Homo sapiens: one gene and its partners. The protein of the gene in region 3 interacts with the protein of the main gene of each other region in a biochemical or structural test. Each region holds a gene or a part of one and is shown on either strand. Other genes may lie near its edges. The genes, in order: MCM5, TOPBP1, ATRIP and ETAA1.

Evidence for each region.
Region 1: the proteins of ATRIP (region 3) and MCM5 form a complex in vitro, tested with the Homo sapiens proteins (one study listed by BioGRID).
Region 2: the proteins of ATRIP (region 3) and TOPBP1 form a complex in vitro, tested with the Homo sapiens proteins (2 studies listed by BioGRID).
Region 4: the proteins of ATRIP (region 3) and ETAA1 form a complex in vitro, tested with the Homo sapiens proteins (one study listed by BioGRID).

What each region holds. Positions count from the first base shown.
Region 1 is NC_000022.11:35,403,130-35,410,154, forward strand, and holds part of MCM5 (DNA replication licensing factor MCM5), read left to right. Parts: intron 1-77; coding exon 78-204; intron 205-284; coding exon 285-413; intron 414-3,423; coding exon 3,424-3,596; intron 3,597-5,278; coding exon 5,279-5,434; intron 5,435-7,025. UniProt on the Homo sapiens protein: Acts as a component of the MCM2-7 complex (MCM complex) which is the replicative helicase essential for 'once per cell cycle' DNA replication initiation and elongation in eukaryotic cells.
Region 2 is NC_000003.12:133,637,942-133,644,966, reverse strand, and holds part of TOPBP1 (DNA topoisomerase 2-binding protein 1), read left to right. Parts: intron 1-603; coding exon 604-947; intron 948-1,594; coding exon 1,595-1,767; intron 1,768-4,796; coding exon 4,797-5,008; intron 5,009-6,804; coding exon 6,805-7,025. UniProt on the Homo sapiens protein: Scaffold protein that acts as a key protein-protein adapter in DNA replication and DNA repair. Composed of multiple BRCT domains, which specifically recognize and bind phosphorylated proteins, bringing proteins together into functional combinations.
Region 3 is NC_000003.12:48,449,724-48,456,748, forward strand, and holds part of ATRIP (ATR-interacting protein), read left to right. Parts: intron 1-313; coding exon 314-447; intron 448-769; exon of another isoform or gene 770-852; intron 853-2,005; coding exon 2,006-2,176; intron 2,177-4,576; coding exon 4,577-4,695; intron 4,696-7,025. UniProt on the Homo sapiens protein: Required for checkpoint signaling after DNA damage. Required for ATR expression, possibly by stabilizing the protein.
Region 4 is NC_000002.12:67,392,718-67,400,356, forward strand, and holds the start of ETAA1 (ewing's tumor-associated antigen 1), read left to right. Parts: upstream 1-4,615; 5' UTR 4,616-4,731; coding exon 4,732-4,954; intron 4,955-5,613; exon of another isoform or gene 5,614-6,320; intron 6,321-6,451; coding exon 6,452-6,580; intron 6,581-6,832; coding exon 6,833-6,909; intron 6,910-7,639. UniProt on the Homo sapiens protein: Replication stress response protein that accumulates at DNA damage sites and promotes replication fork progression and integrity.

The DNA of each region.
Region 1 (7,025 bases), on a different chromosome or scaffold from region 3:
GCAGGCACACCTCAGCCAGTGTTGGTTTCCTCTTCTTTGCACCCTTCCTGCCCCACCCTGCTATGTGCCCACTCCAGGGATGAACTCAAGCGGCATTACAACCTGGGGGAGTACTGGATTGAGGTGGAGATGGAGGATCTGGCCAGCTTTGATGAGGACCTGGCCGACTACTTGTACAAGCAGCCAGCCGAGCACCTGCAGCTGGTGAGTGGGACCCCATCCCTGAGCTTCCCAGGGCTGCTCTGCCCCAGTTACTAATAGCCTGTGCCCTTCCCTTTCTCCAGCTGGAGGAAGCTGCCAAGGAGGTAGCTGATGAGGTGACCCGGCCCCGGCCTTCTGGGGAGGAGGTGCTCCAGGACATCCAGGTCATGCTCAAGTCGGACGCCAGCCCTTCCAGCATTCGTAGCCTGAAGGTGGGTCGGAGGGCAGTGGCTGCTGCATGGTGCAGAGGGCTTTGGATGCAGCCAGACCTGAGTGCTAGCTGTGTGGCCTTGAGTGAGGCACTTGACCTTTCTGAACCTGTCTCCTCCTGGAGACAAAAGGATCGTTTGTTGTTTTTTGCTTTTTGTTATGAAAAATTACACACCCAAAAGCAGAGAGTAGTATAATGAATCCCATAAAGCTTCACCCAGATTTAATAATTAACATTTTGTGTTGTTTCCTATTTTGTCCTTTTTCTTTTTTGCTAAAGAATTTTAAAGTAAATTCATGCACAGTGGCTCATGCCTCTAATCTTAGCACTTTGGGAGGCCGAGGGAGGAAGATTGCTTGATACCGGGAGTTTGAGACCCTGGCTCTCCAAAAAACAAAACAAAAAAAAAACAAAAAAAACAAAGCTAGGTATGCTGGCATATGCCTATAGTCCAGGCTACTTGGAAGGCTGAAGTGGGAGGATCAAGGGGCCTAGGAATTTGAGGTTACAGTGAGCTCTGATTGTGCCTCTCAGCACTTTAGCCTGGGTGACAGAGCAAGACCCTGTCTCTAAAAATAAAAAATAAATTACAGACATGACACTTTATCCCGAAAAAAAAAAGTTTTCTTACATAGTCTCATTAGCACCTCAACTGAAACATCAAAGATCTCTTAGTATCATTGAATATACAGTCTAGATTCAGATTGACCAAATTACCTCACATGACTCTTACAGCTCGTGTGTCTCAGCCAGGACCAGGCATTGTACTGGATTGTTGTTTAAATCTCTTTTAATCCAGGACAGCTTCCTTTACTCTGGGTGTAAGTTCTTTCACAGATACATTATTGATTTGCTAAAGAAGCAGGAGCCATTATCCTGTAGAATGTGCTGCCTTTTAGATTTATCTGAAGGCCTCCTTGGGGTGGTTACAACATACCCCTTCCCCCCCGTGATTTTTGGAAGCTGGAAGTTAGATGCAAAGGCCTGACTGTGTTTCGATTTCACATACCGGGCAAGAACGCTTATGGGTGGTATTGGATCCCTCATTGCATCCCTCCATCCACTATGCTGAGACTGACCAGGTGCTAGGTTGAGGTGGTGATGGTCACTTTATTGTAATGATGCAGGCATGGAGTCTTGAATTCCGCCTCCCCAGCCTCGCTTCTGCTTCCCACAGCCTCTTCCTGCTTTCTTTGAGAGCCCCAGCAAAACTTCTGCTCATGTCTGGTTCTCTCGTTCAGCCGGAGGAGGGCATTGAGAAACGGAGACAAGGTGGAGAGAGATTGTCCCAGTCCTGTACACTAGTGGCTCAGGAGCTTTGTGAAGGGCAAGGGCTGGCCATAGGAAGGAGTGGATCGGCTGAGAATTTATGTTTTACTTTTTATTATGGATAATTCAAACATTAGAATATAAAGAGAATCGTATAACGAATCCTCTTGTACTCATCACCCAGCTTAATAATTAGCAACTAGAGGCCAATTTTTTTTTTTTTTTTTTTTTGAGATGGAGTTTTTGCTCTTGTTGCCCAGGCTGGAGTGCAGTGGCACGATCTCAGCTCACTGCAACTTCCGCCTCATGGGTTCAAGTGATTCTCCTGCCTCAGCCCCCCAAGTGGTTGGAATTACAGGCACACACCACCACGCCCGGCTAATTTTTAGTAGAGATGGGGTTTCACCATGTTGGCCAGGCTGGTCTCGAACTCCTGACCTCAGGTGATCCATAGATGCCAAATCTTGTTTCATCTGTGGCCCTGGAGTTCTTTTGAAACAAGTCCCATACATCATATAATTTGATCTGGAACTATTTCTCCATGTATCTCTAAAAGATGAATCTCTTTTTTTTTGAGACGGAGTTTGACTCTGTCGCCCAGGATGGAGTGCAGTGGCATGATCTCAGCTCACTGTAACCCCTGCTTCCCCGGTTCAAGCAATTCTCCGGCCTCAGCCTCCCGAGTAGCTGGGATTACAGGCATATGCCATCACACCTGGCTAATTTTTGTATTTTTAGTAGAGACGGGGATTCACCATGTTGGCCAGGCTGGTCTCGAACTCCCGATCTCAAGTGATCCGTCCGCCTCGGCCTTCCAAAGTGTCGGTATTACAGGCGTGATCCACTGCACCCAGCCTTTGAAGAGTCATTTTTAAAGGCATAGCTACAATAACATCACACTTAAAAATTAACATTACGGCCGGGCGCGGTGGCTCATGCCTGTAATCCCAGCATTTTGGGAGGCCGAGGCCAGTGAATTGCCTGAGGTCAAGAGTTCGAGACCAGCCTGGCCAACATAGTGAAACCCCGTCTCTACTAAAAATACAAAAAGTTAGCTGGACATGGTGGCAGTTACCTGTAATCCCAGCTACTTGGGAGGCTGAGGCAGGAGAATCGCTTGAACCCGGGAGGCGGAGGTTGCAGTAAGCCGAGATCCTGCCATTGCACTCCAGCCTTGGCGACACAGCAAGACTCTGTCTCAAAAAAAAAAAAAGAAAAAAGAAAAAATATTACTGCCTTATTGTCCGGTGTGGGAATAGTCATTAAGATGGGGAAACTGAGGCTCAAAGAGAAGTGACCCAGACAGAAGACCACACAGCAGGTTTTGACAGAACTTGAACTAGAATGTGGGCCCCTGCCTCCCAGGTTTGTTCTGTGTTGTACTCTACAGGTCCAAGGATGTCGCCATCAGAGCTGGGGTCAGGTCTCTCTCCTGGCACCTGCCACTTTGTAGTGAAATGTGCTTAGTGTATCTCTTGCCCTGCCACCTCCCCCCCCAATTGTGCTGCGAGGTCTTTAAAAGCAGGAGCTGTGCCTGAGGCTCCTCTGAACCCCAGGGTCCAGATAGCCTGGCACTGGGTGGATGCTCTGGAAGCATTTTTTGAGCGGAACAGAAGAGCTGTGGCCCTCCCTGCAGCTCTGTGCCCACCTCCTCCAGGCTCCTGCCCAGGATATTTACTGGCATATCTCAGATGCGTCCTGGCTCCCCTTAACCAACAAGCTTCCCGATGGCTCTATTACAGTCGGACATGATGTCACACCTGGTGAAGATCCCTGGCATCATCATCGCGGCCTCTGCGGTCCGTGCCAAGGCCACCCGCATCTCTATCCAGTGCCGCAGCTGCCGCAACACCCTCACCAACATTGCCATGCGCCCTGGCCTCGAGGGCTATGCCCTGCCCAGGAAGTGCAACACGTGAGTCTGTGGCCCAGAGGGACTGTGGGAGGTGACCTGAGTGAAGATCAGAAAGGATGAGAACAAGTAGCAAGCACTGCCTGCAGCTGCTTCTAGAGATCCACTGGGATGGGCTGGGCAGGGGTGTGCCCTTAGGATTGGCACAGATCTGATGCCCTGTGGCTCTGAGACACCATGAACAGGGTCCCTCTACATTGGTGACTTCTGTCTCACCAGGATACCCAGACAGCGTTGTAGGGAACCCAGGGTTGGGAGGGAAAAGCAGTCCAGGGTAATGAGTCTACTTGGAATCTTCTGAAGCAAACTATGGTTTGCTCACTAGGCCAGATCTAGCCTGCTGACCCTATGGCCCAGGAACACGTTCGTTCATTTAAGTATTGCCCACAGCTGGTTTCGCACTACAAAGGCAGGGTATGTGGCCTCTTGGCTGGCAGAACCTGGAATGCACATCCTCCGGCCCTTTCTAGAAAATGTTTGCTGCCCCCAGTCTGAAGGAACCCCACCCTCTTCACTGGCTGCTCTTTCTTGGCTCCTTCGCTGGTGCCTCCTCAGCTTCCCATCCACCTGTGGCACAGCTGCCTCATTCCATGCTGTTGACATCTCTCACTTGGAGAGGCACGCTACCTCCTCCCTGATCCCCCGCGTCCACCCTCCACCCCCTCAGTCTGTTTTCCACCCAGCAGCCAGGTGTCCCTTGACACTCAGGTGGTCCAGTCATTTACTTCTTAGTCAAGTCCTGCACAGCCCACCACGATCTGCTCCTGGCTTCCCCAGGCCTCGCTGCCCCTCCTCTCTCCAGGCCCGGCCTCACTGCCTCCTTCCTGTTTCTGGAATACACTGACTACCCCCAGTCTCACTGCCTTTGACCTTGCTGTTTCCTCTACTGGGAGTGCTGTTCCTCAAGCTACCATAGTCTGTGTCCTCACTTCTTCAGGCTTCTCTTCACATGTCCCCTTACCAGGGGCATCTTGCCCAACCCTTCATCTTCAGTTTGGTGTGCACGTACCTCGTCTCTCCCACACCTGCCTACTTTTTTACTTTTCTTCACAGCATGTAGCTGTCACTCTTTAATATGATTGTTTGCTTGTATGTCTTTTCAGCCTCCCTTGATAGGAACTTAGGCTCCACAAGAGCAGGGACCTTTTTGTTCAGTGCTGTGCCCCCTGCACCTGGAATAGTGTCAGACACATAGTAGGTTTTGCTATGATGTTTACTTCTTTATGTTGCTATAATATCTATTGAATAATGACATAATTACCTAGGGATACGTAGAGGCTTAGACCCTCAGAATGGTCTAGAACTGCCTAGAATCCCACTGGAAAAGATCTTGGGATTTGAGTGGGGCTTTAGTAAGAGAATTGATGAACTAGCTCTTCACCCATGAGGACACCATGATCCTGCAAGAAGACCGAGTGTGACCTGTCTGCCTCCTCTCAGCAAGTTAATGGAAGGACCCAGCCTCAAGCAGTTCCCTTGACTCTTAATCCAGTGCTAGGTCCGTCAGTGTTGCCTTCCTTTCTTACCTCCAGGCAGCGTTGCCTGCCTGGCTTATCTCCAGCTTATTCTGGAGACCCCCATAAATTGCCGCTGGCAACGTCTCCTTGCTGGCTCCTGGGATGAATGAGCCCTGCCTTTGGATTCTCCAGGTAGCTTTGGTGACTCTTTTCCCTTACCTTGTACAGAGATCAGGCTGGGCGCCCCAAATGCCCATTGGACCCGTACTTCATCATGCCCGACAAATGCAAATGCGTGGACTTCCAGACCCTGAAGCTGCAGGAGCTGCCTGATGCAGTCCCCCACGGGGAGATGCCCAGACACATGCAGCTCTACTGCGACAGGTGAGGCAGACGGGCTGGGAGGTGGGCATCTACGACGGTGGATGTCCCAGCTGTGGCCCTAACCCGAGTGTTGGGAGTGGGTCATCTGGAGCAGGGTGAGTAGGGTGGAGAAGGTGGCCAGTTGCAGAGCACCTGCTCTGTGCCTAATGCTTCCATAAGTTCCTCTCATCTCGTCTTTCCATAATCTGCAGGGGCATGTCAGCCCCATTTTGCAGATGAGGAAATGTAACTTGGAGAGATTAAATGACTTCCTGTGTGGAGGAGAGCCGGGCTTTCAGCCTATGTGCATTGCTTTCCAAAGTCTGTGTTCTTCTTAGGATAAGAGGCCCAGGATGCACAGCTAGATAACCAATAGCTGGCAAAGCCTCTTCCCAGCCTGACACCCCACCTCCTACCCCAGGCTTTCTTTTTTTTTTTGAGACGGAGTCTGGCTCTGTAGCCCAGGCTGGAGTGCAGTGGCGCGATCTCGGCTCACTGCAAGCTCCACCTCCTGGGTTAATGCCATTCTCCGGCCTCAGCCTCCCGAGTAGCTGGGACTACAGGCGCCCTCCACCATGCCCAGCTAATTTTTTGTATTTTTTAGTAGAGATGAGGTTTCACCTTGTTAGCCAGGATGGTCTCGATCTCCTGACCTCATGATCCGCCCGCCTTGGCCTCCCAGAGTGCGTGGATTACAGGCGTGAGCTACTGCGCCCAGCGTACCCCAGGCTTTCTGTTAAGATCCTGCTGAACAGCCACGGTGGCTCATGCCTGTAATCCCAGCACTTGGAGCGGCTGAGACAGGAGGATTGCTTGAGGCCAGGAGTTCAAGACCAGCCTGGGCAACATACTGAGACCCTGTATCTAAAAAAAAAAAATTTATTAGCTGGGTGTTGGGGCAGACACCTATAATCCCAGCTACTTGGGAGGCTGAGGTGGGAGAATCACTTGACCCCAGAAGGTTGAGGTTGCAGTGAGCTGTGATTACACCACTCCACTCTAGCCTGGGTGACAGAGCGAGACCCTGTCTCAAAAAGGAAAACAAAAAAGATTCTACTGAGGGGGAGAGGGTACTGAGCTTGGGCCCCTCATAGTAACCTGGGTGGAAGGTTTTGAGATCTTTGATTAGGGTTCTAACCTGGGCTTGCATATCCTGAAATTGCATGCAGATGTTCTGAGGAGAGCGGATCTGTAGCTTCTGTTAACTTCATTAGTGGCAACAGAGTATGTAGGGGTCAGGCTCTTGCTCCCTGGGCAAGTTATGTGACTTTGTCAAGCTTCAGTTTCCTCATCAGTAAAATGGGGATAAGGACAGTCCTTAATCTCTCAGAGGGCTGCTTGAAAATGCATGTGGTGTTTAGCACAATTCCTTCATGCAGATTACGTAATCAGGATGTATGATTTTCCAAGCAGTTCATGAATCCTGAAAACTTACGAAGTGGGTATGGGAAGAGGGGAGTTGGAGGCTCATGGAGTGACGGTGATGGTCTTTTCTGGAGCTGTGATGCCTGATGGTATAAAGCACTTCTATGTCTGCTGCCTCACCTGACTCCACAACATGAGAGGCAGGCCACTTCGTCATCCCCCTAGGCTCAGAGGTGCAATGACTTCG
Region 2 (7,025 bases), about 85 Mb from region 3:
GCCTCACAGTTAGCATTATGTGAGCATTACATGCATTTGTAAAGCACTTAGTCACAGTGCTTATATAAATGAAAGAGTGATTCTTGGATAGCTTCCAGCCTTGTTGGAATCACATAGCAGGGCAAACTTTTTCTCTAAAGGAGTAGACAATAAATATTTTAGGATTTGCCAGCCACTTCCTTATAGTTATTTCCATGTTAACATGTTCCATGTTAAGGACTTGACAGTTATACCATTTAGACTTGTTAATTTTTTTCTTAATGATAGTTTCTTAATTTTATGGTGAATCATCTAAACCAGTTTTGGAACTAAGTCCTGTTGGAGCTATATAATTTTAAACTAATTCAAGTTTCCATTATACTAGGAATACCTAGAACTAACATGATTGCTCTTGTCCTTCCCAATGGATGATGGTAATACTGATAAGGACTCTTGGTAACCCCGAAGACGGGGTGAATCCATATCCCTTTATTATACACGTAAGCTTTAGTTTTGTAAGTATGGTCAAAATTATCAGATTCCATGTTACGTTAATATCCTTGCTAGGAAGTAAACTGTATAAGGTAAATTGTTGGTTAGAAAACATTTACTTTTCTCTTTCAGTTGAGGCTAAGACGTCTGAAGCCAGGCCCTTTAATGATTCTACTCATGCTGAGCCCTTGAATGATTCTACTCACATTTCTTTGCAAGAAGAAAACCAGTCTTCTGTCAGTCATTGTGTCCCTGATGTTTCTACAATTACTGAAGAAGGCTTATTTAGCCAAAAGAGTTTCCTTGTTTTGGGTTTTAGTAATGAAAATGAATCTAACATCGCAAACATCATAAAAGAAAATGCTGGGAAAATCATGTCCCTTCTGAGCAGAACTGTTGCGGATTATGCTGTGGTTCCTCTGCTGGGGTGTGAAGTGGAAGCCACTGTGGGAGAAGTTGTTACAAATACATGGCTGGTAAGACAACACTAGTGGTTGAAATAAAGTATCGAAGGATATCTGAATGCCAAGAAGGTTAATGTTTATTTCTTAGACAGTTCAGTTACAGTAAATCAATGCTTGGACTTGAACACTCTTGATTTTGCTTTTAGCAAGGGAAATTCAAAATTAAATGTGCAAGCTTCTTGGCCTAATCCCGATACAGTAGAGATTACTGTTTCCCAGGGCCACAGCAGCAACATTCCTTCTTAGGAGGTCACTCTAGGGTCATCTCATACTATTTGTCTTGTTTTCTCATAACCAAAGCATCACTGGTAATTTCACTGTTGATTTTTTTTTTTTTAACATTCCAAGAATTATGAGAAAAATAGTATAAACTAATACATTAGAAGGAATGAAATTTAAAGCAACATTCAGTAACTCTAATAATAGATCTTACCGATTTTAATAGCCTAATGTAATTAGTCGATGTATGTATATGTGTGTATGTATATATATACTCTAACATTATGATATGAAATGTATTGAGAATGAGCATACACAAGTTTGTATTAAAGTAAAATTTCTTCTTATCAAAACTAAATTATTGCTTCTGTACCTGAACCAGTGTTAACCACTGGTTGCTTATTTCAGGTTGGCTTTACTATTTCTTTTGTTTTTAAAAGGTTACTTGCATAGACTATCAGACTTTGTTTGATCCAAAGTCGAATCCTCTCTTCACACCAGTTCCAGTAATGACAGGAATGACTCCTTTAGAGGATTGTGTTATTTCATTTAGCCAGTGTGCTGGAGCAGAAAAAGAGTCTTTAACATTCCTAGCAAACCTCCTTGGAGCAAGGTATGTAATATTTTTAATGCACCTGTTGTATTGGTGTATCTTTTTATTTATTTTGACTTCTTGGAGAGCATTCAAATTAGAATTTGGTTGGGTGTCTTTATTATATTTATGAGTGTTATGTGGTTCCTTCTCCACTCCCACTGCTTCACTTGACTAGCCTTAAAAAAAAAAAGTGCCTCTGTTGTCCAAAGATGAAAACTTAGGTATCATTAGAGGTAATAACTGCAGTGGGTCCAAACACATGAAATAGTGTTTAAGTTGTGACTTCATAATGACACCAAATAAAGTAAGGTAATTGGTCATCTTTGAAAGATGCTAGAGAACCAGTCCATTACTTTGAAAGCTGACAAAAGGAAAGGATCAAGGAATTACCTTGCATTTCCTGTGCAGTTTGCATCAGGGTAACATGATAGTGGATACGACAAAGTTTCCCTTTATAAAGATGTTTCAACAAACAAATAAATAAATAAGGAATGATAAGACTGTAACCCCTAATGAATGAAAGAATCTAGGCATTGAACATCAATAGTCGATCACACAATAAAGGGACAAGACATGATGTGCCTTCTTACAAAGAATACACCACCACTTTGAAGTAGTCTTGCCAAAATAATCAAACCTCAATCTGATGATGCTTCTAGATCCAATTCCCAATTTATAGGAAATGCAAACAGCAGAATAACACGTTAAACTATACTACAGTGATATAATCAGCAAGACCCAGACTTTAGTACAACTCTGGCATAAATGATCCAGTGTCTTCAATGAATATATATTAAGGGCATGGAAAAGAAGGTAGGAACCTATAAGCTAAAAGACTTGAAAAAGCAAAAGCCTAAATGTAGTCTTTAAAGTTGCCATTATTTGATTATAGAAAAGTAAAGAAGTGATTACTATAAGTATCCAAATAGGCCAAGCACAGTGGCTCACACCTGTAATCCCAGCACTCGGGAGGCTAAAAGATTGCTTGAGCTCAGGAGTTCAAGACCAGCCTGTACAACATAGTGAGACCTCGTCTCTATTTAAAAAATAATAAAAAAAAATGAGCCAGGCATGGTGGCATGTGCCTATGGTCCCAGCTACTCGGGAGGCTAAGGCAGGAGGATTACTTGAGCCCAGGAGACCAGGGCTGCAGTGAGCTATGATCACACAACTATACTCCAGCCAGGGCAACAAAATGAGATCCTGTCTCCAAAAAAAAGCCCAAATAGTGGCTACTATTAAGAAGGGAGGGAAGGGGGTTTATATGGCATGTTGGAGAGGTTCTGGGGTAGTTAGCAAGATTCTGTCTTCTGACCTGGGTGGTGGACTTAAGGGTTTCACCTTATAATAATTCGTATAGCTGTATATTTCTTTTTTTGCTGTTTTCTGTTTGAATTATATGAAATAATAAAATTCTTTTAAAACTGAAATTGTGGAAGATAATAACATACATGATGACAGACTCCACTGGATACAGCTAAAGCTGTACTCAGCAGGAAAGTCATGCAAATTCTGAAATAGAATAATTGGGACTAGCCCTAACAGTTATTAAAATATATTTTGTGGCCAGGTCTGGTGGTTCATGCCTGTAATCCTAGCACTTTGAGAGGCCGTGGCAGGAGGCCAAGTTCAACACCAGCCTGGACAATATACTGAGACCCTGTCTTTACAAAAAATTTTAAAAATGAGCCAGGCAATGTAGCATAAATCTGTAGTCTCAGTTATTTGGGAGGCTGAGGTGGGAGGATTGTTTGAGCCTGGGAGGTCAAGGCTGCAGTGAGTCACAGTGGCGCCACTGTACTCTAGCCTGGAGGACAGAGCAAGACCCTGTCTCAGAAAACAAACAAACAAATATATATTTTGTGAAACTTCACTAAATAACAGTGTGGTTACGTGTAGCAGAAAGTTTAATTAATGGACAGCAAATGTAGCAGGAGACCCAAATGTAAAAAGGAATTTACGATACAAGTGACATTTCAAATATATATAAGGAAGACATGGCTTATTCAATAAATAGGATTCATTAAAGTTGGAGCAGTATCTCATATCTAAATAAGTACTGAATGGATTGGTGGGTTAAATGTAAAAAATGAAATTATAAAAGTACTAAGATAAACACAAAACATAGAAAAAAAAAGTGCTAGGAAACATGGGAAATTTAAAAATCTGAAAAGTTGGGAACTAGAACATAAAACCCAGAAGTCATAAAAGAAATCACGGAATTCTGTTCAATCTCAAGTCGTAGACTTCTTTTTCTGCCCCGTATTCTCTGTGTTTAATATCCTATGATCTTGAGGCACTTAATTTCTCTGTATTTTTTCCCATGTCTATACTTAAATATTGAGAGGATCAAATGAGATAATATGTAGAAATGCTTTGGAAAGTTGTAGTAGGTTAAAAAATAATAATAATGTTATTTATACACTTTGCTCCTGTCATTTTTTCTGTGCCTTCTTTTGGGAGGAAAGGACAAGGTGTGGGGGTGATAACTAATTAAGGAGGTAATTTTGGCTGTGTGAGGTGGTTCACGCCTGTAATCCCAACTTTAGGAGGCTGAGGCAGGAGGATCACTTGAGCTCAGGAGTTCGAGACCAGGCTAGGCAACATTGTGAAACCCCATCTCTACAAAAAATACAAAAATTAGCCAGGTGTGGTGGTGTACACCTGTAGTCTTAGGTACTGGGGAGGCTGAGGTGGGAGGATGGCTTGAGCCTGGGAGGCGGAGGTTGCAGTGAGCTGTGATTGTGCCACTGCACTCCAGTCTGGACAACATAGCAAGACCCTGTCTCAAAAGGATTTTTGCTGTCTGTTCTTTGCATGTCTAATTATGTTTTTATAAAAAGTTTGTTACAGCAATACATTTTTACCCTAGAGTAAGCATTTGTAAGGGGATTAGCTTAATTTCAGATAGAGTAAACCAACTTTTAATCAGTATTTTTTTTTATACTTACATGATCTCTAACCACACTGTTGTGTTGGAAATTTTGTTAGTTTTGCGGGTTAATTGTATATGTGACCATTTCCACTTCTTTAAACATAAATTTCAGTGTTCAAGAATACTTTGTTCGCAAATCCAATGCAAAGAAAGGCATGTTTGCCAGTACTCATCTTATACTGAAAGAACGTGGTGGCTCTAAATATGAAGCTGCAAAGAAGTGGAATTTACCTGCCGTTACTATAGCTTGGCTGTTGGAGACTGCTAGAACGGGAAAGAGAGCAGACGAAAGCCATTTTCTGATTGAAAATTCAACTAAAGAAGGTTAATACTTTTATTCTGTTCTTTTATATATATTTACAACTAGATGGTTTCTGGGATATAAATGTGCCAATGCTTGTGTTTAGGAAGGGTCATTGATTTTTGCTTTTCACATTGGGTGCAGTGAGGGTCTCAGTGTTCGAAGTCTACAGATGTAAGCTTGGCTCCTATTTACTGTTGATTCTTTCTATGGCTCATAGTAACACACTATATAATTAACATGCTATCTCTCCTCTTATCTTTGGGCTTCTGCATGTTTCCTGTAGACCACCTCACAGTTGCCTGCTCTTCCTGCTTATCTTTCAGTTCTCAGCTAAGATACCACTTTCCCTGGGAAGCCTTTCATTTTTTCTTTTTAATTATTATTACACTTTAAGTTCTGGGGTACATGTGCACAATATGCGGGTTTGTTACATATGTATACATGTGTCATGTTGGTTTGCTGCACCCATTAATTCGTCATTTACATTAGGTATTTCTCCTAATACTATCCCTCCCCCATCCCCCCATCCTACGACAGGCCCCGGTGTGTGATGTTCCCTGCCCTGTGTCTGTTCAATTCCCATCTATGAGTGAGAACATGCGGTGTTTGGTTTTCTGTCCTTGTGATAGTTTCCTCAGAATGATGGTTTCCAGCTTCATCCATGTCCCGACAAAGGACATGAATTCATCCTTTTTTCTGGCTGCATAGTATTCCATGGTGTATATGTGCCACATTTTCTTAATCCAGTCTATCATTGATAGACATTTGGGTTGGTTCCAAGTCTTTGCTATTGTGAATAGTGCTGCAATAAACATATGTGTACATGTGTCTTTATAGTAGCATGATTTGTAATCCTTTGGGTATATACCCAGTAATGGGATCGCTGGGTCAAATGGTATTTCTAGTTCTAGATCTTTGAGGAATCGCCACACTGTCTTGGGAAGCATTCTTGACTCACCAAGGATGGCCTTTGTCTTGGTATAATGTTTTTTGTTTCACCATGACACTCTGTATCATCCCTTTTATCTCTTACCTCAGTGTTATAATGGTTGTTTATTTTGTGTCTTCCTGCTAAATTTAAAGTTCCAGAAAGGCAGTGAACATGCATGTCTTGTGAATTCTGTATTTCCCATGTCTAACACTAGGCCTGGCATGGAGTAGCTATCTAATAAGGTTTTTTGTTAAATGTTGAAAAAAGGTGGAAGGCATAGGTGGAAGAATACAGTACCCTCTCTTGTAAGATAATAGCATCCATGGGCAAACTTCAGGGACATATCAGCAGCTTGGGAATACCTCTCAGAGTCATTACTTATTTTGCCAGACAGACTGGTAATTTTATGACTGAGGCTAAGTGATGTTCAGGTCATATTAAAATTTGATTAAGGACTTTCCAAAACTAGACTGTAGTTAACTCTGAGTACCTGTAATTGAGATTTTTCTTTTTACTCTGTCATTGACTAGAAAGACATTCACTGATAACAATTTTTGGCAAATAGGCTTATTGAGACATAGCAAGATGAAACAGGAAATCTATTATTATTTTTTCAGTTAATGTGCTTGTCTAACTCAACATATATTTAATGCATAATCTGGTTTGTTTCTTGGAAAGTAGGTATATAATTTTGTGATTTAAAGTGTACCTGAGAATTGACATGAAAACTAACAGATTAGGATGCCGAGGTAGATGGATCTCTTGAGCCCAGGAGTTATGCAAGAAAGAAAGGAAAGAAAACAGTATAAAATATTACTTCTTGTGTACCGGGAAAAAGTGGGCATTAGTGGCTCATATTTGTTTCTTTTCATTTTAAATCTCTAGAACGAAGTTTGGAAACAGAAATAACAAATGGAATCAATCTAAATTCAGATACTGCAGAGCATCCTGGCACACGCCTGCAAACTCACAGAAAAACCGTCGTTACACCTTTAGATATGAACCGCTTTCAGAGTAAAGCTTTCCGTGCTGTGGTCTCACAACATGCCAGACAGGTCGCAGCCTCCCCAGCAGTAGGACAACCACTTCAGAAGGAGCCCTCGTTA
Region 3 (7,025 bases):
AAGACCAGCCTGGCTAACATGGTGAAACGCCATCTCTACTAAAATCCAAAAAAAAAAAAAAAAAAAAAGCCAGGCATGGTGGCACACACCTGTAGTCCCAGCTACACAGGAGGCTAAGGCAGGAGGATCACTTGAACCCAGGAGGTCAAGGTGGCAGTAAGCAGTGATCACACCACTGCACTCCAACCTGGGTAACAGAGCAAGACCCTATCTCAAAAAAGAAAAAAAAAAAAAAAGTGGGTATTTTCAGCATTTTCTGGCAAAAGTGGGAAAATATTGGGTCCTGAAATGTATATGGAACTATTTTTTACAGGTGATCATAAGGTCCACAGATTATTAGATGGCATGTCAAAAAATCCTTCAGGGAAAAACAGAGAAACTGTTCCAATTAAAGATAATTTCGAATTAGAGGTACTTCAGGCACAATACAAAGAACTTAAAGAAAAGGTAAGTGACTTAACTTGTGGTTTTTGTAGCTAATTCATTCACTTACGTGTTTAAAAGCATTGTACAGTAAAATATACAAAAGTTGTAAAACAAGTGTCTAGATTCATCCCTATGACATGGGAAAAGACTAGGGAAAGAAAACCAGAAAGTTTAGGCTGAAAGAAACTAAATTGTGAGATTCCTAATGCCAAAGGCAAGAAGAAAAACACTGTATACCAGATCCAAAAAGAGATACAAACTGTTAGGGTACTAAGATGAATTTATAGCATGTATCTTCATGTGAATAATACAACTTCATAATGGTTGCTATTTTCATTAGCAGCTTTGCAAGAAAGCAGACACTTCATATCACCATCTGTAGGTCCCTAAGAAAACCAGGAATATGTGGAATTTTAGTTGTGCAAGGTATGTGACCCAGATTTTTTTTTTTTTTTTTTTTGGAGATGGAGTCTGTCATCCAGGCTGGAGTACAGTGACACAATCTTGGCTCACTTCAACCTCTGCCTCCTGGTTTTAAGCGATTCACATGCCTTAGCTTCCAGAGTAGCTGGGACTACAGGTGTGCACCACGACGCCCAGCTAATTCTTGTATTTTTAGTAGAGACGGAGTTTCACCATGTTGGCCAGGCTGGTCTCAAACTCCTGGCCTCAGCCTCCCAAAGTGTTGGGATTACAGGCATGAGCTACCACACCCAGCGACCCAGATCGTTAATGCCTCTTAGAGCCTAAAGAATCCGGCCAGGCGCGGTGGCTCACACCTGTAATCCCAGCACTTTGGTAGGCCGAGGCCAGTGGATCACCTGAGGTCAGGAGTTCAAGACCAGCCTGGCCAACATGGTGAAAACCCGTCTCTACTAAAAATACAAAAATTAGCTAGGCATGGTGGCGGGCACCTGTAATCTCAGCTACTCGGGAGGCTGAGGCAGGAGAATTGCTGGAACCTGGGAGGTGAAGGTTGCAGTGAGCCGAGATCGTGCCATTGCACTCCAGCCTAGGCGACAATAGCAAGACTCCGTCTCAAAAAAAAAAAGGAATCTGGTCAGGCAAGGTGGCTCATGCCTGTAATCCCAGCACTTTGGGAGGCCAAGGTGAGAGAATCGCTTGAACCCAAGAGTTCAAGACCAGCCTGGGCAATACAATGAGACCCTGTCTCTACAGATAAAAGTGAAAATTGGCCAGGCTAGTGGCACATGCTTTGTAGTCCTAGCTACTCAAGAGGTTGAGGCGAGAGGATCACTTGAGCCCAGGAGTTCAAGGTTACATTGAGCTATGATTGTGCCACAGCATTCCAGCCTAAGCAACCCCATCCCCCTCCCTGGCAAAAAGAATCTGCATGCATGAGTGGCAAGTGTATGCTTAAGCTATCTTGATGAATATCAGCTGTCCCATGAACAGGCCTAGCAGACCATGGTGACATCTGGTTGCTGTGGATATATTTTGAGTACTCATTTGTCTGTTTTTCCTGTGCTTTCTCCATCTCCCCAACTACATGTTAAAACAAAGTACCTAAGTAGTTTTCTCTTACAAAGTTTTCACGAGATTAATTTGGGATTTACAGATGAAAGTAATGGAAGAAGAAGTTCTCATTAAGAATGGAGAAATTAAAATTTTGCGAGACTCACTACATCAGACGGAATCCGTTCTAGAGGAACAGAGAAGATCACATTTTCTTCTTGAGCAAGAGAAAACCCAAGCACTCAGTGACAAGGAAAAGGAATTCTCCAAAAAGGTGACCCAGAGCATTTGTTTTGCACCAGCTTTGCCTGCCCACTGAGTTCCTTTGACCAGGGTTGCCTGTAAATCTTCCAGGGAGATTTCAACACTTGTTTGTCTTAAATACTTTCTGCTATCATCTCATTGCCATCCACTCTTCTTCCAGGGTCTGGATATATTTTGGAAAGGGATTTAGATGAAACTCTATTTTGCTGTGGTAGTTGGTCTTGGCAGGAGTAAATAACTAGCTTAGCATTTCTAGAAACAGGTTTACATTAAGGCTCTTTTGCTAGATCAGAAACTCAACTGACCTGGCTTAGGCTAAAAGGAAACGTATTGGCTTCCATATCCAAGTCTGGGAAGAACCGGGGTATGCTGGGACCTTAAATGACTTAAATCTTGCCAGGACATTTTTATTCTCTATGCTATAAACAGGCTCTATACTTATGGTAGAGGGTGTGTTCTCCAGAAGCTCCTGGGCTCATATTTTATAAATACAGAGCAGAATTAAGACTTAGGGCCACATGCAGTGGCTCACACCTATAATCCAGCACTTTGGGAGGCTGAGGTGAGAGGATTACTTGAGCCAGGAGTTCGAGACCAGCCTGGGCAACTAGTGAGACCTCATCTCCACAAAAAAGAAAAAGAAAAAATGAACAAAATTATCCAGGCATGGTGGTGTGCACCTGTAGTCCCAGCTACTCAGGAGGCTGAGGTGGGAGAATTGCTTGAGCCCAGGAGGTTGAGGCTGCAGTAAGCCATGATCATGCCATTGTACTCCAGCCTGGGCAATAGAGCGAGACCCTGTTTCAAAAAAAGACTTAGGCTCCCTCATCTCAAGTTTTAAAATTCTGAGAAAGGCTCTGATTGGTTTAACTTGAGTCAGTTGTCTGTCCCTGGCCAATTGCTATAACCAAAAGCAACCAAAAGCAAAAAAATGACAGCTCCCATTCTAATAAAATAGTCAGAGGTAGGGAAATTATTGAATTTTTTTTTTTTTTTTTTTTTTTTTGAGACAGGGTCCAGGGTTTCACTCTCTTGCCCAGGCTGGAGTGCAGTGGTGCAATCACAGCTCACTGCAGCCTTGACCTCCCAGGCTCAAGCAATCCTCCCATCTCAGCCTCCCAGGTAGCTGGAACTATAGGCACACACCACCAGGCAAAGCTAATTTTTAAATTTTGGTACAGACAGGGTTTTGCTGTATTCTCCAAGCCGTTCTCAAGCTCCTGGGCTCATGCAGTCCTCCCACCTTGGCCTTCCAAAGTGCTGAGATTACAGGCGTGAGCCACAATGCCCAGCCTGTTTCTCAGGGAAAGGAAAATGCTATTCTGGAAGGAAAAACAGTAGGTATCCAGTACCTACTACAACTTTCCCTCAGCACCTCCTCATGCTTCAATCTCAAGGACATGGGATCTTATTCTCATTGTTTCATTCAGCAAACTTAGCAAACTTTAAGCACTTACCTGTGCCCATCATTAACCGCAATAGTTAACTTTCTGTATAAGTGATGAAGAGCAAGGAATTTGCGGTCAGACAAACCTGAATTTGAATCCAGGCTTCATCACACATAAGCAGTGACCTCAAGGTAATAACTTAAGCTCCCTGGCTCATTTCCCTTATCTGTTCCAAGACATAACCAGAAAGGTTGTTGGGAGACTCACACATTCTTGCACTTACTGTGTCTGGTGCTGGGCCTGGCGCAGAGTGTGCTTGGGGAATGATGGCAGTTACTGTTGGCTGTAGCAACTGCAGGCCAGAGCAGCAGGTCTCTCTATACTGCACAGTGTCTTGGTAAACTATTCCAACTACTCTGCCCAAACTTTGAGGAAGACCTGGAATTGTGCACCAGTGCGTTCGTTAATAAAGGTCAATATGTTACTGCTGACATAGGGCACCTTACCAAGCTCTATGCTGGGTATTTTACACTCATCATTCTACTTAATCCTCCCAACTATCATGAAGACAGGTGTTTTATGTTACAAATAAGTTAGGATTCAAAGACATTAAATAAATGGTGGGCTGGTATTTAATTCTTTTTTTTATTTTTTAAATTTTTTGTAGAGGCAAGATCTTGCTATTTTGCCCAGGCTGGTCTCGAACTCCTGGGCTCAAATGATCCTCCCGCCTCAACCTCCCAAAGTGCTTAGGATTACAGGCCTGAACCACCACACCCGGCCAGGGCTGGTATTTAAACCCTCACAAACTACCCTTACAATAGAGTCCAGTATCTTTTTAGAGTACCATATTGTCTTTCAGAAAGAAAGCTAATGTTTAATATTTTAGGACATTTATGTCACAGCAGACTTTCATATGTATTTTTCATTGTTTGTCTTTTACTGGCTTGTGATTTTGAAGCCCAGAGATATTTTTGTGTATATGATGGGACCACTACAAGCATGTTTCTTTTGCCTTCCAGCTCCAATCATTGCAGTCTGAACTCCAGTTTAAAGATGCAGAGATGAATGAATTAAGGACAAAGCTCCAGACCAGTGAACGAGCAAATAAACTGGCTGCTCCCTCTGTTTCCCATGTCAGGTAATGATGGTGCTGGAGGGATAGTTCAGTTTTGCATTATTTAGTAAAAAATCTGCATAACAGTGTCAGGCTGGTCCTAAATGAAGGCCATTTAGACCCCTCCACCTGGGCAGAGATCCTCTTTTCCTGAAGGATTCAGAGGTGGTTTAGATGAAGCTTGCATGGTTTGAGACATCACAGCATAAAGGCCTATACTCTAGAAATGCTGCCTCTGTATGGCACTTTATAAACATAATTCTTCAGGACTAGAAAGACCTGGAAAAATGATCTCCAAATTTTGGGGGTGGGCTAGTCTCTACTTTTATGTAATTTGTTTAACTGATTTTGTTGCAAGCATGGGTGTATTTTAGTTCCAGCTACTTGGAATATTTTTTTCTCATTTGCTTTCTGGGGACCCTTGTCCAACAGCCCCATCCTTTGTGGTCAGATGTGCTCAACTTGTTTTTTTTTTCTTTTTTTTTTGAGACAGAGTCTCGCTCTGTCACCCAGGCTGGAGTACAGTGGTACAATCTCGGCTCACTGCAACCTCCGCCTCCTGGGTTCAAGCAATTCTCCTCCTTCAGCCTCCTGAGTAGCTGGGACTACAGGCACACACCACCACGCCCAGCTAATTTTTGTATTTTTAGTAGAGACGGAGTTTCACCATGTTGGCCAGGCTCGTCTCAAACTCCTGGACTCAAATGATTTGCCAGCCTGGGCCTCCCAAACTACTGGGATTACAAGCATGAGCCACTGTGCCTGGCGCAGCCTGGAAATTTGAACAGTGTCAGTCAGGGCATCTTCTGGTTTTGAACTTTCTACCGCCTTTGTTCATAATGGGCAGTGTGTGAAACTGAACTCTCCATGCCTTGCATTGTCCACATAAGACAAGAGAACTGAGGGGATCCTCTTCACACATCAGTAACAGAAAGACCTCAGCATTATATGATCAGATCAGAGAGTTAATACTGCTTCTCTACCATAAAGACATTGGCACTAAGTTGCTCAGTTTTCAACATACCTAGTAGGTTTATCAAAATTATGATATTTATTTTGATAGCCCTTTTTCTATTTAAAGTCTTTGCATTCTATTGGAAGTCTTTTTTTTTTGAGACAGAGTCTCACTCTGTTGTCCAGGCTGGAGTGTAGTCACATGATCTCAGCTCACTGCAACCTCCACCTCCCGGGTTCAAGTGATTCTCCTGTCTCAGCCTCCCAAGTAGCTGGGATTACAGGCACATACCACCACACCAGGCTAGTTTTTTTGTATTTTTTTTTTAAGTAGAGATGGGATTTCACCATGTTGGCCAAGCTGCTCTCGAACTCCTGACTTCAGGTGATCCACCCACCTCAGCCTCCCAAATTGTTGGGATTACAAGGGTGAGCCACTGTGCCCAGCCTGGAAGTCTTGTGACTATTAAAAAATCGTTTGTTCCACATTGGCTGGGTGCAGTGGCTCACACCTGTAATCCCAACACTTTGGGAGGATGAGGCGGGCAGATCACTTGAGGTCAGTAGTTCAAGACCAACCTGGCCAACATGATGAAACCCTGTCTCTACTGAAAATATAAAAATTAGCTGGGCATGGTGGCATGCGCCTGTAATCCCAGCTATTTGGGAGGCTGAGGCAGGAGAATCACTCAAACCTGGAGGCAGAGGTTGCAGTGAGCCAGGATCACACCACTGCACTCCAGCCTGGGCAACAGAACAAGACTCCATTCCAGAAAAAAAAATAGTTTGTTCCACATTGAAAAGATGTTTTGCACCAGGCATGGTAGCTACAGAGGCAATCCCAGCTACACAGGAGGCTAAGGCAGGAAGATTGCTTAAGGCTAGCAGTTCGAGACCAGCCTGGGCAACATAGCAAAACCCCATTGCTACTTAAAAAAAAAATAAAATTACTGGCCCCAGTGGCTCACGCCTGTAATCCCAGCATTTTGGGAAGCTGAGGTGGGCAGATCATTTGAGCCCACGAGTTCAGGACTAGCCTAGGCAACATGGTGAAACTCTATCTCTAGAAATAACTCTATCTCTAGAAAGAATAAAAAGTTAGCCAGATGTGGTGGTTGCACATCTGTAGTCCCTGTGCTACTCAGAAGGATGAGGTGGGAAGATCACTAAGCCCAAGAGGTGGAGGCTGCAGTGAGCCGTAATTGTGCCACTGGGCTCCAGCATGGGCAACAGAGTGAGACCCTGTCTCACCAAAAAAAAAAAAAAAAAATTAGCTGGCCATGTTGATGTGTGCCTGTAATCCCAGCTACTCAGGAGGCTGGGATTACAGATGGGTGGATTGCTTGAGCCCAGGAGGTCAAGGCTGCAGTGAGCTATGATCATGCTACTGTACTCCAGCC
Region 4 (7,639 bases), on a different chromosome or scaffold from region 3:
AATAGGATTGTCTCAATGCATCTTTTTGTGTCAGTCAGAGGTGGAGAAGCTGGCTATGGACTGGTTCCTAAAATCAGGTGCCCATGTCTAGTCCAGTCATTTTTACCCGATTGGGCCCGTCTGGCCAGACATGGTCACCTAGGCAGCAGAGGCTCCTGATGGAGCAGCTAGGCATAATAGGTGGTTCTAGCTAATACAATTGCAGCTATGTCAGGAATAAGGAAAAATGGGCCCAGCACTTACCCAGGTACATTTTGGGGTGGAAACATTGTAACAAAACTGTTAAAAACAAACAAAAAAACAAAAACCCTCTAATCATTGTGTTGCTTGTTCAGATTCTGCCAAATGCACTCTCACAGATTTGGAGCTGGAGCTCTGTATATAAAACACAAACATAATTCACATAATTATGGATTTTTTTTTCTTGAAAGGAAGACTGCTCACAGTTAGCCATTGATCAGTAGCATTGACCCATCGTTGTAATGTAAGTGAGGAGGCAATCACTGGCAGAGAAGCTCCTTAGTAACTCAGACCTTCAGTGTCACAATTTTTGCCTTAATAATTATTGTCAAGTTTATAAATAATCCCTGTAAGTGAAACAAGCAAGAGTTTCACTTTGGTTTATTACAGTTTTTAGTTGCAGTAAACCTTACTTATATGTATAAATTATTCAAATGCCTAGAAATGCTGAGCTATGAATCATATTGCATTCAAACATCTGTAAGACTTTTGTTTCACATTAAAAACATTTTATTAAGGAGTTAATTGTGTTATACTTATTTCAGGAGCTATAGTCAGGAAGTAAATTTAATTTGAAGTACACTTAGAAATGTAACAGATTATGTAAAGTAAGTAATTTTCAAGTTAAAATTTACTATAATTTCCTACCCCATAATGATTACAGGTTACAGCCATCCTAGGTGTGTTAAGACAACACGTCTGTACTTTAGGCTCAAGTTGTTCATTTCAGCAATGGTTACTTGGGCACTATAGAATTTGGAGTTATGGTAAAGTATTCACTGTTATTTTATTTGCAGCATTAATATGCTTTAAAGGATTACTACATGGTTATTTCTCTTATAAACATCACTAAATTCTTTAAACTTCCTTAATTACTTTCTAAATGTGAGTTGGATATTTATTTGGTAAATTAAGTTCTTTTTACATTTTTTTTAATGCTTCTAGGATTTTTGGTCATTTGAGAGGTAGGAGAGATCTCTGAGAGAAATAGTAATATTCCTGCTAATTTATACAAGTGAAGGTTCAAGTAATTAATTTGAATTTTAAAAGATGTAATATCACTTGTATTCCAGTCTTATCCGGTTATAAATAAATAAAACTAAACAATGGTTTAAATACATGTAGGTAAAAAACAATCATGGAAAGAAAAAGTATTAGTAGAAGGTCAAACACTGAGGAAAAATAATGGAATTATCTATTCACAACGGTTTATATGGTTTATATAACTGCTAGCCCTGAATCTCAAATTTAGTTCTAGGATTTCTGTCAGCAAAATTAAAGAGTAAAAACAGAATAGTTTACAAGATAGAAGAAATATATCAGCTCCTCAGTAGGAACTAAGATCTTTGCCTTACATTAACATTTTAAACATTTTAATTGATAAATATAACATGTGTGTAGAAAATGAACAAAATGTACAGCTCAGTAGATTACCACAAAGCAAATACTTTTGTAATTAACAACTAGAACATGAAAATAAACAAAGCCAATAAATACATGAAATTCTCTCCTCCCTCTGTCCACTTCTAATCACTGTCCCTTCCCCCTCCCGAAGGTAACTATTATCCTGACCTTTATGGTAATCATTCCTAGATTTTTCTTTATCATTTTAACACTAAAGCTTACATCCCTATACAATATAGTAGAACTTTGCCTGATGGAATTTATATGGGATTTATTTAACATTATGGAGGAGGGTTGGGAGGTCTAGCTTTTTTTTGCTCAACTTTATGTTTGTCAGATTTATCCATGTTGTCGCACAGAGTTGTAGTTTTCATTTTCATTGCTATTTTGTTGTGTGAATATAGTTCAATATATTTATCATTCTACTGTTGGAAAGCATTTGGTCCACTTACAGTATGAAGTAATTTTGAATTGAATTTTACTGCTAAAAGCATTTTTCTTCTTCTTTGTTTTTTCTTTTTTTTTTCTGTTGCCCAGGCTGGAATGCAGTGGCACAATCATGACTCACAGCAAGTCAACTTCTGGGCTCAAGTGATTCTCCTTCCTAGTAGCTGGGACTACAGCCATGCGCCAAAATGCCCAGCTAATTTTTTGTATTTTTTGTAGAGATGGGTTTTCGCCATGTTGCCCAGGCTGGTCTCAAACTCCTGGGCTCAAGCAGTCCACCTGCCTCGGCTTCTCAAAGTGCTAGGATTACAGGCATAAGCCACTGCATCCCACCAAAGCATTTTTATAAACTGTATCTTGATGAACAAGTCCATGCATTTAAACAGAGAATATTCCTCAGAGTGGGATTGCTAGATCAAAAACTGGTTTCCAAAGTGGTTGTGCCAAATTATACTCTCACCAGCAGTACGTGACAGCTTCCATTGGTTTACTGCCTCAATACCTATATTGTCAGTCTTTTTAACTTTAGCCATTCTGATATGGTTTTCATTTGCATTTTCCTGATTAAAAATGAATCTGATTTTTCCATAAGTTTGTTGATAATATTTTCTCTTGTGAAGATCCTGCTCAAGGGTCTCATCCACTTTTGGTTTTGACAGTCAATCATTTCCTTAGTGATTTGTATCAGTTCTTCATATAACCTATATATAGGCCCTTAAATATGTCTTATAAATATTTTCTCCCAATTTGTGCCTTGCCCTTCCTTCTCTTTAATGTTGTTTTTGAATGGACAGAAGTTCTCAAATTATCAATTTTGTGTAGTCACATTTATAATTATGCCTGGTGACCTTTGTTTTATTTCAAATGCGTTCTGTCATGAAGACAATTTATACCTTCTAAAATGTTATTTTATCTTCTACAATTAAATTTATAATGAATATATATGCACCTGATTTGGGGATAAAGTTTGAGGTAAAGGTCATGTTTCTTTCTTTTTCTACATGAACATCAAATAGACCAAGCACTATTTAATTTCAAAAGTCCTTTTACCATTGCTCAGAAGGGTCACCTTTGTCTTAAATCGTGTTCATTTATATGGAAGTCTGTTTCTGTGCTATCCTGTTTCTTTCATCTTTGTCTATCCTGACACCATCATAACACTGTCTTAATTACCATATAAGTCTTGATACCTGGTAGATATCAACCCTCATTATTCTTCGAGAGATCTTCAAGAGTTTATTGATATTTTTGGTCCCTTGCATTTTCATATAAATTTTAGAAAAAACTTACCATGTTACACACACACAGTCACACACTGGGCCTTCATATGTATTTATGTTGAATCTATAGGTCAGTTTGGAAATAGCTGACATTGTAACAATATTGAGTCTCACAACCCATGAACATAGTGTAACCATTTATTTAGGTCTTCGTTTTCTTTCAAAAAAAAAATTTTTTTTTTTTTTGAGACGGAGTCTTGCTCTGTTGCCCAGGCTGGAGTGCAGTGGCGCAATCTCGGCTCACTGCAACCTCCACCTCCCAGGTTCAAGCAATTCTCTGCCTCAGCTCCCAAGTAGCTGGGATTACAGGCACCCGCCACCACGCCTGGCTAATTTTTGTATGTATGTATGTATGTATGTATTTACTTATTTTACACGAAGTCCCCCTCTGTCGCCCAGGCTGGAATGCAGATGCGCGATCTCTGCTCACTGCAAGTGCAGTGGCGCAATCTCGGCTCATTGCAACCTCCGCCTCCCAGGTTCAAGCAATTCTCCTGCCTTGGCCTCCCCAGTAGCCGGGACTACAGGCACGCACCACCATGCCCGGCTAATTTTTTGTATTTTTAGTAGAGACGGGGTTTCACCATGCTGGTCAGGCTGGTCTTGAACTCCTGACCTCGTGATCCGCCTGCCTCGGCCTCCCAAAGTGCTGAGATTACAGGCTTGAGCCATGGCGCCCGGCCTCAAAAATGTTTTATAGTTCTCTTTGTAGGAAGGACAATCTTTAACTTATTCCTAGTTACTTGCTATCTCATGCACTATTATAAATAGTATCTCTTTAAAACTTCAATTTTATATCTGTTGCTAATCTATTGAAACACATTGATCTTTGAATATTGACTTTGTATCCAGCAACTCTTAAATTAATTTAGTAATTTTTTCTACTTTCTTTTGGATTTTTCTATGCACATAGCATCTATGAAAAATTAACTGTATTTCCTCTTCTTGAGAAATTCGAAGACTCTCAATAATCTGAATTTGACTAACGTGCAATTTTCGTTGTAAATTCAATAAAAAGTTGCTAGTGTATTCAATCTTTCCAACTCACAAGCTCCCACTCTCAGTTTACGCGGACCTGACTACTACCCGAACAACCCCCACCAGTCTGGAGGATTTTGAGCCTAGACACTCCTCCAGAGCAGGCTCCTGTCCCGGCTGCGGAAGTGCGCGCGCCCTCGGCACCTTAACAGTTCCGCCCCTCTCCCGGACCCAGCCAATCAGCGGCCGCCTCTTGCGCGCGCCCCACCGACCAAAATGGCGGCTGCCGTTGGTGCGGGGTGCGGTTTGTAGTGCTGTTGCCCTACTCATCCCTTTGCAAAATGTGAAAGAAGAAGCGGCTGGTGGAGGCGGGCCATAGGCAATGAGTCGGCGAAGGAAACATGATGACAGCCCTAGCCCGAAGAAAACGCCGCACAAAACAGTGGCGGCGGAGGAATGCGGCTCGGTGGTCGAGCCAGGGAGGAGGCGGCTGAGATCGGCCCGCGGTTCGTGGCCCTGCGGGGCTAGAGAGGGGCCTCCCGGGCCAGTGCGGCAGCGAGAGCAGCCTCCGACCGCCGCCCTGTGCAGTAAAAGTAACCCCGAGGGTGAGACGTCGGCAGCGCGGCCTGCCTTGGCTTCGGCGCCGCATCCCCACATCCCAGCTTGCAACAGGGAAATCTGGGGTGGGGGTGGAGTCTGGAGCGTGTATTCTGTCTCTGGGATTCACCCCTCGAGAGTCCAAAAATAATCCTATACCACTCCCCGATGGGCTTTTGTCCCCGAACTTCAGCACTACCCCGTTAGGTTTGACCATCCATTTGCCTCCGCCACAGGAATAGGTAATGTGGTTTACCTGTTTGCGGGAGGGCGGCTGCTTTCCAGGCTGCTCCTCCAGTCAGCAGCAGTGGTGGAGTGAGAAGAAACAGCTGATAGGCCCGCTAACCTCAGTTTTTGCCCGGAGAAGTTATTTCTCTTTAAACCCTTTTTTTCCCTGTGACCTGCTTTAGAGAAGAGTTCATAGGAAAAGTTAAAGTTTGTCTCAAAGCCTGGTAGATGTCTCACCTCATTGTGAATAAACCGGAAGTTCCTGTGTGTAACATCCCTCCAAATAAGATACTAAGGATCTCTTTCGTCTCGATTAGTTTTAGGTGTTACTTTTTAAAAGACTTCTAGTAAATCTTAGTTGGAACTGAAACTCATACAAAAGCCTTTATTCTGGAGCATGTTCTTGAAATAGTGCTTTTTTTTTTTTTTTTTTTTTTATACCTTACGTGTCTTTTTTCTTTTGGGAAAGAATCTCGCCCTGTCGCCCAGGCTGCAGTGCAGTAGCACAATCTCGGCTCACTGCAACCTCCGCCTCCCGGGTTCAAGCGATTCTCCTGCCTCAGCCTCCCAAGTAGCTGGGACTACAGGCGTGTGCCACCTCGCCCGGCTAATTTTTTGTATTTTTGGTAGAGACAGGGGTTTCACCGTGTTAGCCAGGATGGTCTCGATTTCCTGACCTCGTGATCCACCCGCCTCGGCCTCCCAAAGTGCTGGGATTACAGCCACCGCGCCCGGCCACCTTACATGTCTTTAATAATACTCCTATAAAGCAATTTGGGAATGAACAAAAATCTTTATAAAAATTTGAAAGTGATTCTAGACAAAAATTCCCAAGCATTGGATCACTAATGGTTTTTGAAGAATGGCAATTAATGTAGATTAGATAGAGTTGGTGAAAGGGGGCTAAACATATTTAGGTTTCTGTTGGGTTACTTTGGATTTTTGAATGTACCTATAAATTACAGATGGTTCCCCAAAGCCTCCAAGACTCAATGGTAATAAATAGAATGACTTAGGTTATACAGTATTGTATTATGCATTCATAAAGCTTCTGGATTATCTAGAAGTGTTTGCTATTTACAATGTGAAGTTTGCGAAGTGCCGCGTGGATTTTTATGTGAAACAAGCATTTCTGTTACGGTTCAGGTAATTATCTCTGGGAAAAAAAATTATCTTGGACTATAAAAGTTAGTCTCAGCTATTTGACCTTGGGGTCTTACGAAGTAAGGTAATGCTTTAAAATGCAACAATTGTTATTTTACTCATATTTTATATAGAAAGGTATGAAACACCAAAGAGAGCGCTGAAAATGGACTCACTGTCATCTTCCTTCAGTTCTCCTAATGATCCAGATGGACAGAATGATATCTTTTGGGATCAGAATTCTCCATTGACAAAGCAGTTAGGTAATTAATTATTAACATTTTTTATGTGAGTAAATATTTGATAAATGATTCAGATTTAACTAGAATTCTAGTCAGATAATAGCATCGGGAACCTCTGAGAATGTTATATGATTTTATCTGTATAAGTATGTGATGTAAACACATAATCCTCTAAGCTGCACTAAATAAAATTACTTTCTAAGAAGTGACAGCTGTTTTTTAAAATGGAGGGTTTTTTGTTTAAAATTTATAGAAATGTCTTTGTTTCTTTAGGTAAAGGAAGAAAAAAACAGATTTACACCACAGATAGTGATGAGATTTCACATATTGTTAATCGTATTGCTCCTCAGGTAAATATCACTAGTTTTACAGTTTGTTTTAAAACAGTGAAGAATGTGCCACTAAGTTTTTGTAGTTTCTTTAAATGAAAAGTATTGTCTATTATAATTCTTTTTTCCAAAAATAAGGCAGCAAAGATTACTGTTTTGCCTTTTCTACTTTTGAAATACATATTTTGAAAAAAGGAATATAATATAAAATACAAGATATTTTCTTAAGTATATATCTTGTTTTAATTTTTTAGAGTAATTTTTGACTAGGGCATTGTGTTTATCTGTAATGTTGTGCTTAACAACATACGACATCATTTTTCAAGTTGCTAAAATAATAGAATAAGGCAGTGAAAAAAGTTTATACTTCTATGATTGTTTTGTGATTGGTACTTCCTGTCTGTAACATTTCCCCATTGAAACTATTAATACTCATTTCCTTATAAGATTATCAAGAAACACTTACAAAAGTGGAGAGCACTGAATTCAAATTTAGTCCTCATTCAACCTCCTATGCTGTGTGACCCAGTGCAAGTTATTTAAACTCCCACCACTTCAGTTCATTCAGCCATGAACTAGAATTATTGTGTTGCTCTTGCTGTCTTCATTGGATCATTATGAGAATTAAACTAGATAAAAATTCTTTGTAAACTATAGAGTGCTATAATTGTAAGGTTACGTTAAGGTTGTTACTGTAATAGAACCATCTCCAAAGCTTTTTTTTCTTTTCTTGGACAGGCATGGTGACTCA